2 separate regions of the Homo sapiens genome follow, and region 1 is linked to region 2. Evidence: fine-mapped expression QTL. A gene starts in region 2. The other region holds a variant in brackets. All regions are shown on one strand. Distances are from middle to middle.

Region 1 (5,387 bases), 150 kb before region 2:
TTCTTTATTCTCAATGCCATAGTCTTCGAATAGGCCCTTATTGTCTCCTACATGTTCTAAATTATCTTCATATCTACAATCACTCTTCTCTCAAATCCCACAATGGAATTAGTTTTGTTCTTGAATGTGCTCATTTCATCACCCTGTTAAAACTAGCAATGGCATAATTAATGTTAATGCCAAACATAAATAACCTAGTCAATAACTAGGAATAGTATTTTTCTATGATAATGAATAGTGTGCCATTTTAACATATGAAAAGTTTTAGAACACATTTTGGATAATTTTATTTAAAAAAATAAATCTGTTTTATAGAGAAAGTCCTAACACTGCTTATAGAGAAACTAGTAATGAGTATACTCAATTTGTCTATTTGTAGAAATTAAGCCTAAATCTTACAAGCTAAGTAAATATTTTGGTTCATTTTACTTAACAGTGATAGAAAGTAGACAATTGGAGCACATTCCTATATACATCTACAGTGAAATGTTTTCCTCCATTGTGTAGTTCTTGATAGTCCTTTCAAATTTAAAACTTATTTAAACCCAACTCGAATTATAGTTATTTTATATTGAAACAGAAATAAGAATATGGGTATGTTATAATAAAAAAGAAAAAGTTTCTGAAAATGTTCCTTGAGCATCAAAATGTTTTTACCCTTTTCACAGATACAGCTTTAATGGAACAGCTACATTAGCCTGAACAGGGTAAACACAGAAGAGAAAGCATGGAAATTTGCTTTGTTTTGCAATTATTACTATGTGCAACTTTGAACTGTGTATTTACCATTAGACTAGAATGGATTCAAATGCCCAGGATAAACCCTGTAGTCTTGAACCCATTTTCTTTTTTCCATTCTTTCTTAAAAATATATTTTTAGAAATGGGTGCCTCGCCATGCTGCCCAGGCTGGTCTTGATCTCCTAGCCTCAGGTAATCCTCCCATCACGGCCTCCTAAAACACTGGGATTACAGACATGAGCCACCTCACCCAGCCTAGAACCCATTTTCTAACTAAAATAAGATTTATATCAATCTTCATATAAATGTATAAAAAATTATCTCATAGACACTGTATAAAAGATTTTACTTCGAGAACTTATAACTGTAAGTAGGTCATAAGAAATTTTAAGATATGTTACCTACCAAAGAAAGATATTATAAAAAGAATGTCAGTGTTGTGGCTTCCTGCCATAATACACATATACATACAAACATACCCTAAAATTCTTCAAAAATGACTGAGTTTTGTTTATGCATAAAAGATATCTTATTTGAACAGAAAAACATAAGTCTAAAGGGAAATCTGAAGTTTTGTTCATTCCTCTTCTAATAATAGAGTTTTAAAAGCTGCCCTTTGAAAAGTCAATACATTATTAAAAAGAAAATCAAAATCAAAGGCAGCAGAAATAGCAAAAAATTTTAAACTATTACCTTCCTACTTAAACTACCTATATATATATATATTTTTTTTTTAATCTGAGGAAAGACATTTACATTGCAAAATTCTTATTTTCCCATCAGAAGTTTAAAATTATAGCATCTACTTACCAACCCAACACAGTTGCTTAAAGCCACTTTAGTTGTACTACGTTGATCTTGCAAATATCCTGTGTAATGACAGTTGTCTAAAAAATCATGTTTCCACTGGGGTCCATCTTTCCCCCAATATTCTACTGTAAAATGTTTGGACACAAAATCTGTGTTGAGAGTCAAGTTTAGATGAAAGTGCTTGCCATAGGCTGAAAGTTTAAAAAATAACTTAGATACTGCCTGCTGTGGATCAATAGGGTCCATACTCCGTCTTCTCCTTGAGTGTTTATCATTTTTCACAGTAAAGCTGAGAAATGCTCCATTTTGATCAACCCTTATTGGAATAGTTAGCTGGTAGTGTTCAAGATAAGTCAGGAATTCCTCTTTGTAATCACAAGGCAGAGAATCCAGAAAAAAAACACATGGAAGAAAAGAAAATTTAACGGAACAAAGAAGCAGCAATATAAACAACAACTATGTCAATTAAAACTATGAATCATTATATGTGAGGTATGTACAAAAAAAGTTA[T/C]ATTAAACAAAAATGAAAGAATAAAAGTTTAAAATCTGAAGATTAAGTTGCCATCATTTTAATATTACTTGTGAAGGACTATTTTACTTTTTTAATTTTTAAAACATGGATCCTAAGAGCTAAATTCTACAAGAAATATTAAAATTTTACTTTGAAATAAAAAATAATGAGAAGCACACATATGTAAAAGAAAAGAGTTTAGCTCAGAATCTGTTTTTGAAAGTTATCCAAAAAAGAATCTCTATAGCCTTGTAGAAATTATTATTTTTTAAGAAATCATCACACGGTGAAACCCCGCCTCTACTAAAAATACAAAAAAATTATCCGGGCGTTGCGGCACACGCCTGTAGTCTCAGCTACTCTGGATGCTGAGGCAGGAGAATCACTTGAACCTGGGAGGTGGTGGTTGCAGTGAGCCGAGATTGCGCCACTGCACTCCAGCCTGGGCGACAGAGCAAGACTCCGTCTCAAAAAAAAAAACAAAACGAAAAACAAAAACAAAAACACGTCAATGGGAATGTAAAATGCTGTAACCACTTTGAGAAACAGTCTGACAATTCCTCAAAATTTTAAACATGGAGTTAACCATATGATCCAGCAATCCTACTCTCAGGTATATACACAATAGAAATGAAAACACACATTCACATAAAAATTTAGATGTGAATGCTCAGCAATATTCATCATACTCAAAAAGGGGAATTAAACCAAATTTCCATCAATTGATGAATAGACAAACAAAATGTAGTATATCCACACAATGCAATATTATTTTACAATAACAAGGAATGCAGTAGTGATACATGCTATGACATGAATGAACCTTCAGAACAACTGTCTTCATAATCAAAGTTCATTATCTAACATTTAAAACATTAAGTAAAAGAGCAAGTCACAATATGCCACATATCATTGCATTTATATGAAATATCCAGAATAGGGAAATCTCTACAGACAGAAGGTTTAGTTGCCTACAGCTGGAGGTGAAGGCTGGTTTGGAGGGAATTTGGAAGTGACCACTAAGAAGTATAGGCTTCTTTTTGGAGTGATGAAAATGTTCTAAAATTGATTATGTTGGCGATGACACTAGTGCCAAAAAATAAGATGAAATAAAATAAAATAGGTTATTGTGATGGTTGTACAATGCCGAAAATACTAAAAACCACTGAATTTTATACCTTAAATGGGTGAATTCTATGGTATGTGTAGTAATATCTCAATAAAGCTATTTTAAAAACAGCTTGACTAAAATTTCAGAGAACTAAATGAGGAACATATTTTCCTCATTTAGATGTACTAAACATTTTCCATCTACCTTCTTAGCTGTACCTTCTTTCAGCTAGATTTACCACTAAGGTAAACCAAATGTCTGCTTATTTGCCTCAGTGTCTATACATGGAGTTTACACACTAATATAAACTCCTATAAAACCATAACCAAATGTAAATAAATTCAAAGACAGTGTTTATTTCACTTCTTATAAATAATTAGAGTTCATACTAAATGTCATGGCTTCATTGATTTACTTTGACAGCCACACTTTTTAACATGGATTTCTAGATACATACATCAATCTGTAATAGTCTTGAAAATCTGGTTCATCGGCACCAAAAAATTATCTATTACTATGTATTCATGGGAGGGAAATCCAAAAGGTATGCCTCTCAATAATTCTATAAGGACTGGACTGGTCCATGGAAAACAAAATGACATTTACTCCTGGGCCTGCTTTGTTAAGATCATTTCTACGATATAAAGCTCAATTCTATAGATTAAAATTATAAAGATTAGAATGTGAAAAGTTGCACTTCTTACAGTTCTCATTCTTACACTCAGATTCTAGTCTTTAGATCAGAACTCTCAGGTTTGCAAAAGTATTTTTTCACAAAGGGTCCATATTAAAAGGGTCCTGTATCATAATTTATCTGGTTTCTTCTTCCACAGCATAAATGTTTGGATTCTCTTTGAACATGTCCTTGCCCATAAACTCTAGTAATGAACAAGCTTATTAAAGTTTAAGTTTCAGAAGAACAAGGCCTGGGGTCTATCATTTTCCAAGAAAGACCAGTCAACTCTAAAATCCACGGGATGTTAAATACTAGTAGGACAAGTTAAACGACGCATAGCCCTTAACATTTATGAAACTAATACCGAATTGACACAGTAGGCCTCTATTCCTATCACTACATATCCCAAAAAAAACTATCCACCCAAACTAAATATGCAGAATCTTTTCTTGTCCAATTAATAGCAATATTTTTTGTCAGTTTCAAAAGCAAGAATCCTACCTTGAGAACTGTATGAAAGCCTGTGGTCACTATGAAATTCCGATGAAGCCATGATGAGGCTCAAAATCCAGGTCAACGTCTTCCACAAAATTTCCATAATTTAGAAAACTGGATGATTTTTTTGAGGGCTACCTATGTGCTAAAGAGTCAATACCATACCAAAATCGAAGCATAACAATTTTATTTCTTTAAAACTTCTTGCAAATTAGTTATTGGATGTTCCACTGTTTAAGAGCCACTTTTATCCAACATCCTGCACTTTCTTCTATATCTGGATTCATTTTCTCAATCCAAAATGAAAAAAATAATGATGGTAAAAGTTTTCATAAGCAAAGCATTAGGCTGATTAGTTACTAAAGTATGGCCATTTTTTAACCTAGAAAAAAAAAAATTTAAGTTAACTGAAAAATATCCAGAATGGAAAAATCCAAGTCCTATATAGTACTGAATCCTTGCCAAAAGACATAACTACAAAATAATATAGTTAAATTAGACCATTGTTAGTCTTTATAGTCTAAATAAACATTCACAAGATTAGACACAGAATTAGAGACCAAAATGGTTATCAGCATAATGCCAGAGTTACTTAATAATCAAATAAGGAATCTAAAGAGAAATCATAATTCTTTTTTAAAAACTTTGAAGATAACAATGATGGGCAATGAGTTAACTTCCTTTTGATAAAATAAAATCGGCTGACTTCACTACTTCAGTTCATTATATGTGACAAACAATATGTAATCCCATTCCATAACATGCCTTTTAAACACACTCATATCCAGATATTGTTGTGTTGCTTTATAAGGCACCTATCATTTTTTTTTCTGACAAAGTAGATCTACAAATAGTGACATTTAGCAGCCATCTGTGAATACTAAGACAGTATCAGAAGCTAAACTTCTAAAAAGTTGAACTGTATGTACTATAACCCTTGACTTTACTCGGAAGTCTTATGTGACTTATAAGGCAACTCGTGAGTCAATTTCAACTCTCTGAAATGTAACTTAAAAGAAAATTTTAAAACTTCATTTCAAGTAT
Region 2 (5,387 bases):
GAGTCTCACTCTGTCACCCAGGCTGGAATGCAGTGGCACAAACTCAGCTCACTGCAACCTCCGCCTCCTGGGTTCAAGTGATTCTCCTACCTCAGCCTCCTGAGTAACTGGGATTAACAGGCCCACACCACAATGCCTGGCTACGTTTTGTATTATTAGTAGAGACGGGGTTTCGCCATGTTGGCCAGGCTAGTCTCAAACTCCTGACCTCAAGTGATCCGCCCACTTTGGCCTCCCAAAGTGCTTCCCAGGCACTTTGTGCTTTACAGGCGTGTGCCACCGCGCCTAGCCACAATATCAGATTTTTATGTTACTGTTTTCTCTAATGATAAAAGCCATGTCATTATCAACTTGTTCACAAGCAAAAGGCCATTTTACACAGTATTAGCATTATATACTTCAACTTTTACCTTCCAATAAATACTTCTTGCTTTCATCTATAGAAATGACAGTGAGATTTTTTTAGTTTATGCTACTATACCTACTACAAATTATGGCATGAAGATTTTGTCAGAAAGGACTATTTCATTGCACAGTTCAGGAATATTTTACATGTTAAGATGAAAATGAACAAGGTGAGCCTCCAATGTATCAAATTCTGTGCTGTAAGAAACTGGAGTTACATCAGGCTTTGGTACACTTTTGAGACTGTAAGGCAAACAGGGTAACAAAAAAATAGATACTGCAATGATACCCATTCCAATTATGAAATAAAACTTAAACTTCAAGTTAATTCACAAACTGCTCTTCAAGTATTCTCTACTTAGCAAAAGCACAATTCAATAAATAAAATCTCAGTCACACAACATGCCTAATAATGAGGGCTCCTTTGCATATCAGATATGCCGTGTACCTGTAGAATAACTTCATTAGTACCTAAAGGTCATCTGAATCAACAACCACCAATATTCACTGATACTAAATTGTGGGAAGAAATGTCTCATTTGCTGTCATATAAAACCAACATTACCTGAATAATCATAGGTGTCTACTTTTCAAGATGTGAAAAAAACTTCATATATTACCTTGATCAGTAATTCATAACCCTGGTTGCACATTAAAATAACTTCTGGTAATTCCTAAAATATACTGATGTCAACCTCATCAGAACTGGAGGAGGAGTGCATCAGTAGTGTACTAAAACTCCTCAGTGATCCTAATATGTAGCCAGGAATGAGAATTATCAATCTCTTAGATTAGAGATGCTCCTGAAGGTTACTCTATAAACCAATGGGATCAGTTCTCCCCTCCATATCTTTCCGTGCACAACAGTGGAAGGGAAAAATGAGTGCCACATATTTCAAATGATTTTTTAGCAAATTGATTCTGGAGCATGTATACATGGTAGAATCTCAAACTTCAAGCATAAGAAAATTCATAAACTCTATCGTTAATGCCCAGCTATGACGATGCTGCAGACTTGTGCAAAGAGTTAATAGACTGTACTACTAACAGGGGAGGGGGCAGCTCACCCAATAACAGATGTCTGATTACAGACGCAGTACAAGAGCGAAAAGTACAGACTTTAAAGCCGGTCAACCCGGGGCTCTGCCACACACTGTTTACCTAAACCTGGGTTTCCTCCCTGTAAAATGGGAATTCACATCTACTTCATAAGTAGATATTAACGAGCTAAAACACCTAACTTAGTACGTAGTTACGATGATGATGACTCAATTTATAATACTAAGCTAATTAATGTCTGTTGAGTTTAACTAAAAGCAGAGGACCTGGAGAAAAGACCGGTCTAGGTCACTGCCACTGGCCCGCAAGCTCCTTTTCACAAATGTCCCGATGATGACATGTCATGAGCAGAAGACCAGGCAATTTCAGGCCATAGGAGAGAAAGGATGCAGAGGACAGGACGAGACTTGTAATGCCAAAAGGGGCCCAGAGGCCGCGCATCCCACCTATCGAAGCCTGGGCCGCGGCGATGCCGCCAGGTCTCCAGGATGAACCGAAGGGAGGCCGATGGTGGAGAATAGAGCACGCAAGGTCCCTCACCTTCACTACAGCTGTCCCCCGGCTGCCCTGCCGGCCACTGTCTACTCCCGCTCCGAGCTTGTTTACAACCAGGGTAGCCATCCTCGCAGGGGAAGCGCCACAGAAACAGCCTTCAGAGTCCTCAACTGAGAGGCGGGGTTGAGCCACCTACCCAGAGGCCTCTGCGCACGCCACCGGCGCACAGGCGCAGTAGGACACTGGGCGCCGCTTAGCCGACTCTTACTCCTCCTCCCCGCAATCGTCGGGTGGTTAGTTGCACAGCCTCGCGCATGGGCACTTTTGTTATTTTTCATTATGTAGTCTGCAGCTGCTGGAGGAAAGACAAGAAAAAAAAAGAAGGGACAAAACGATTAAAGTTTTGGGGTGAAAACTCCAGATCCTTTAATGATTTTTCCTCTCGAATCCAAACCAGCCAGGGCGTGAACTGAGGGCGGTGAGGGGGTACGGGCATCTCCCTGCATGCAACGCGGTTTTTGTATAAACTACAAATCCCAGCATGCCACTCTCTCTCTCTCTCTTTTTTTTTTTTTTTTTTTTTTTTAAAAAAAAAACTCCGGCAACGTTGGCCTTTGGGAGGCCGCGTATTGTTACCTAGGGGTGGTTTCTTTTCCTGCAGTCGCGATGTGTGATTGCAGATGGAAAACAAAGTATTTTATGCCTACGTTTCTAAGATAGAAGAAATGGACTTGTTGAAAAGAAGCCAGTTTGTAAAGGACACAGTAGGAGAATTTAAGGTACCACCACCAGAGAGAGGTTGAGAGTGCGTTTGACTTTTGGTTTTGCCAAACGCGAGGTTTTCCGTTTCCTTCCGGGGCAAGTTGAACCTGTCCAGCCCCCGTAGGCTGTGGGTCAAAAGTGCCGGTCAAAATGGAAGTGAATCCCCCTAAACAGGAGCACCTGCTGGCGCTAAAAGGTAAACTTTTGCGAACCTGATTCCCCCTTTTCTGTTTCCTTGCATTCCCTACTTATCGAAGCCTTTGCCATGTAGGCCTCATCCTTCTTAAACACTCAGTGCTCGCCCTCCTGCTCTGTCCTTTGCCGCCAAGCGGGAGGAAGCGATTTCTCCTGGATGCTTTTTAGGTTTATGGGCCCCTTTCTAGAACGAAATAGATACCTGGTAAATCGTTCTTTCTGATCTGTGCTGCTTCAGTCACGAGATTTTAGCCGCAGAAGCTGACGTCCCGCTCCTACCGTGGAGATCTCTGTGAATTACAGCGGGCATCCAAAGTGCTTTTTCCTTCTGTCTCTTGTTTCTTCCTGTGGCACTGACGAAGTTAATCAGGCTTCAGCTTCCCCTGTAAAATTAGTATTGCATGACAGTAGTGCAGAGAATTTAGCAATACATAGTAATACAACATATAACTTAGATTTATTCAAAACAAACTGCAGTTTACTTCAAATCACTGTGTATGTGGGAAATATGTCCGAGATCTAATGTCAACTCTCATTTTTTGTACACAGCCATTTTGAGTAAGTTTGGTGATTTAATTAGATCATTATTTAGGAAAAAACAGCAGCACTTTTTTTTTTAGGACAATTTTTTTAATGCCTATTTTCTGGAAACCTTTTATTTGAAATCTTTTCAGCTTTATTTTATTTGTTTTTTACTACAACAAATGCGCTTTTTGTTTCTTGGATGCCTTAATATATGGTTAACAATGACTTCTTGAATGAGCTGAGGAAATGCTCAATAAACATTCGGGTTCAATTGAATTGCGCTTACTTTACTTATGGCATCCATTTTGAGGAACGCCTTATCCTTCCCATTATGATGTAGTCATCAGACTTTCTAGAAGCTCATCAGTCTCATATAATGATGCCTGTGTTAGCGAGATTGTCTCTTACTGTGGAACTTTGTAATGTTTAGTGATACAGTGATGGGACCTGTAAGCTTAACCTGAGCAAATGATCTAGACTAAAATGGAGATTAAAATGGATTGTTACTCGTGGAGAAGAGGGAAAAGAAGAAAAGCAACTAATTGTCGTGTTCTTTATCTCACAATCTCACTTCAAGTATGTGGAGTAAATATTAATTCTCAGAGTTTAAGTAACTTTTCCAAGATCACATAGCTAGTGATTGAGGCAGTGTTTCAACGCAAGGCCTGCCTCTCTTTCCAAGAGTCCGTGTTGCCTCCTAAAGAATGAAGCAGCATTCTCAGAGATAATTCCTCTACCAGCTACTCCGATGGGAATTTGGAACAGTTCTATTAACTGCTACGTGTGATTTATACAAATTAGAAGCTATTAAAAACAGTTAAATTGCAGCCGCGCGTGGTGGCTCACCCCTGTAATCCCAGCAGTTTGGGAGGCCAAGGCGGGTGATCACAAGGTCAAGAGATCAAGACCATCCTGGCTAACATAGTGAAACCCCGTCTCTATAAAAATACAAAAAGTTAGCCAGGCGTGGTGGCGGGCGCCTGTAGTCCCAGTTACTCAGGAGGCTGAGGCAGGAGAATGGCGTGAACCCGGGAGGCGGAGCTTGCAGTGATCCGAGATCACGCCACTGCACGCCATCCTAGGCAACAGAGCGAGACTCCATCTCAAAAAACAAACAAACAAAAAGTTAAATTCCAGTGATACAGAGACTGCCACTGGGAATTTTTAGTTTTCTGTTATTCTTTTTTTTCCAAAACCAAGGATACCTAAGAAAGAATATTTAAGCAGCCTAAGCCAGGCGTGGTGGCTCACGCCTGTAATAGCACTTTGGGAGGCCGAGGCTGGCAGATCACTTGAGATCAGGAGTTGACACCAGCCTGGCCAACATGGCGAAAACCCGTCTATACCAAAAATACAAAAATTAGCCAGGTGTGGTGGTGTAATCCCAGCTACTCGGGAGACTGAGGCAGGAGAACCGCTTGAACCTGGGAGGCAGAGGCTGCAGTGAGCTGAGATTGCGCCACTGCACTCCAGCCTGGGTGACAGAGTGAGACCCTGTCTCAAAAAAAAAAAAAAAAAAAAAAAAAAGAACAATAAGCAGCCTAAACGGACAAGTGCTTCAAAATTGACTGATAGTTTCAACTTTATTAAACCTCTTTAGTACCATCTTATAGTTAACCCATTGTTCTAGTTAATCAACAATTTTCACACATTTCAATGTGCTGATGCTGAATGCCAAATGTATTAATTTAAGTGGTCATTTAAGTTCACTTTATCTTTTAATATGTAAAATGTTAAAGATAATATCTTGTTATTCTTGGTTGGGTGAGGTGGCTGATCACTTGAGATCAGGAGTTCGAGACCAGCCTAGCCAACATTATGAAACCCCGTCTCTACTGAAAATACAAAAATTAGCCAGGCGTGATGGTGTGCACCAGTGGTCCCAGCTACTCAGGAGGCTGAGGCACAAGAATCACTTGACCCTGGGAGGCGAAGGTTGCTGTAAG

Alleles and levels. Alleles are on the strand shown, and positions count from the first base shown. SD is a standard deviation of normalised expression in the study named.
For the expression in unexposed skin of the gene that starts at base 2,838 in region 2, C is the low allele of the variant in region 1 and T is the other (moderate effect, 0.67 SD a copy in GTEx).

What was found. PIP is the estimated chance that this variant, and not a neighbour inherited with it, causes the effect.
Region 1: its variant is fine-mapped to the expression of TRAPPC13 in unexposed skin (GTEx, PIP 0.97).

What each region holds. Positions count from the first base shown.
Region 1 is chr5:65,469,228-65,474,614 of GRCh38, forward strand. It overlaps ADAMTS6 (ADAM metallopeptidase with thrombospondin type 1 motif 6), which reads right to left. Exons shown (of 25, transcript NM_197941.4): 2 at 4,350-4,725; 3 at 1,551-1,915. The coding sequence starts at 4,446. Among named protein-coding and RNA genes, the nearest start is that of ADAMTS6, 10 kb to the right of the region's middle. The variant T/C (reference allele first, on the strand shown) is at 2,062.
Region 2 is chr5:65,622,190-65,627,576 of GRCh38, forward strand. TRAPPC13 (trafficking protein particle complex subunit 13) reads left to right here and starts at 2,838. Exons shown (of 13, transcript NM_024941.4): 1 at 2,838-2,917. The coding sequence starts at 2,872. TRIM23 (tripartite motif containing 23) reads right to left here and starts at 2,144. Exons shown (of 11, transcript NM_001656.4): 1 at 2,005-2,144. The coding sequence starts at 2,085. SHLD3 (shieldin complex subunit 3) reads left to right here and starts at 2,838. Exons shown (of 2, transcript NM_001365341.2): 1 at 2,838-2,917. RefSeq lists enhancers at 1,814-2,143, 2,274-2,353.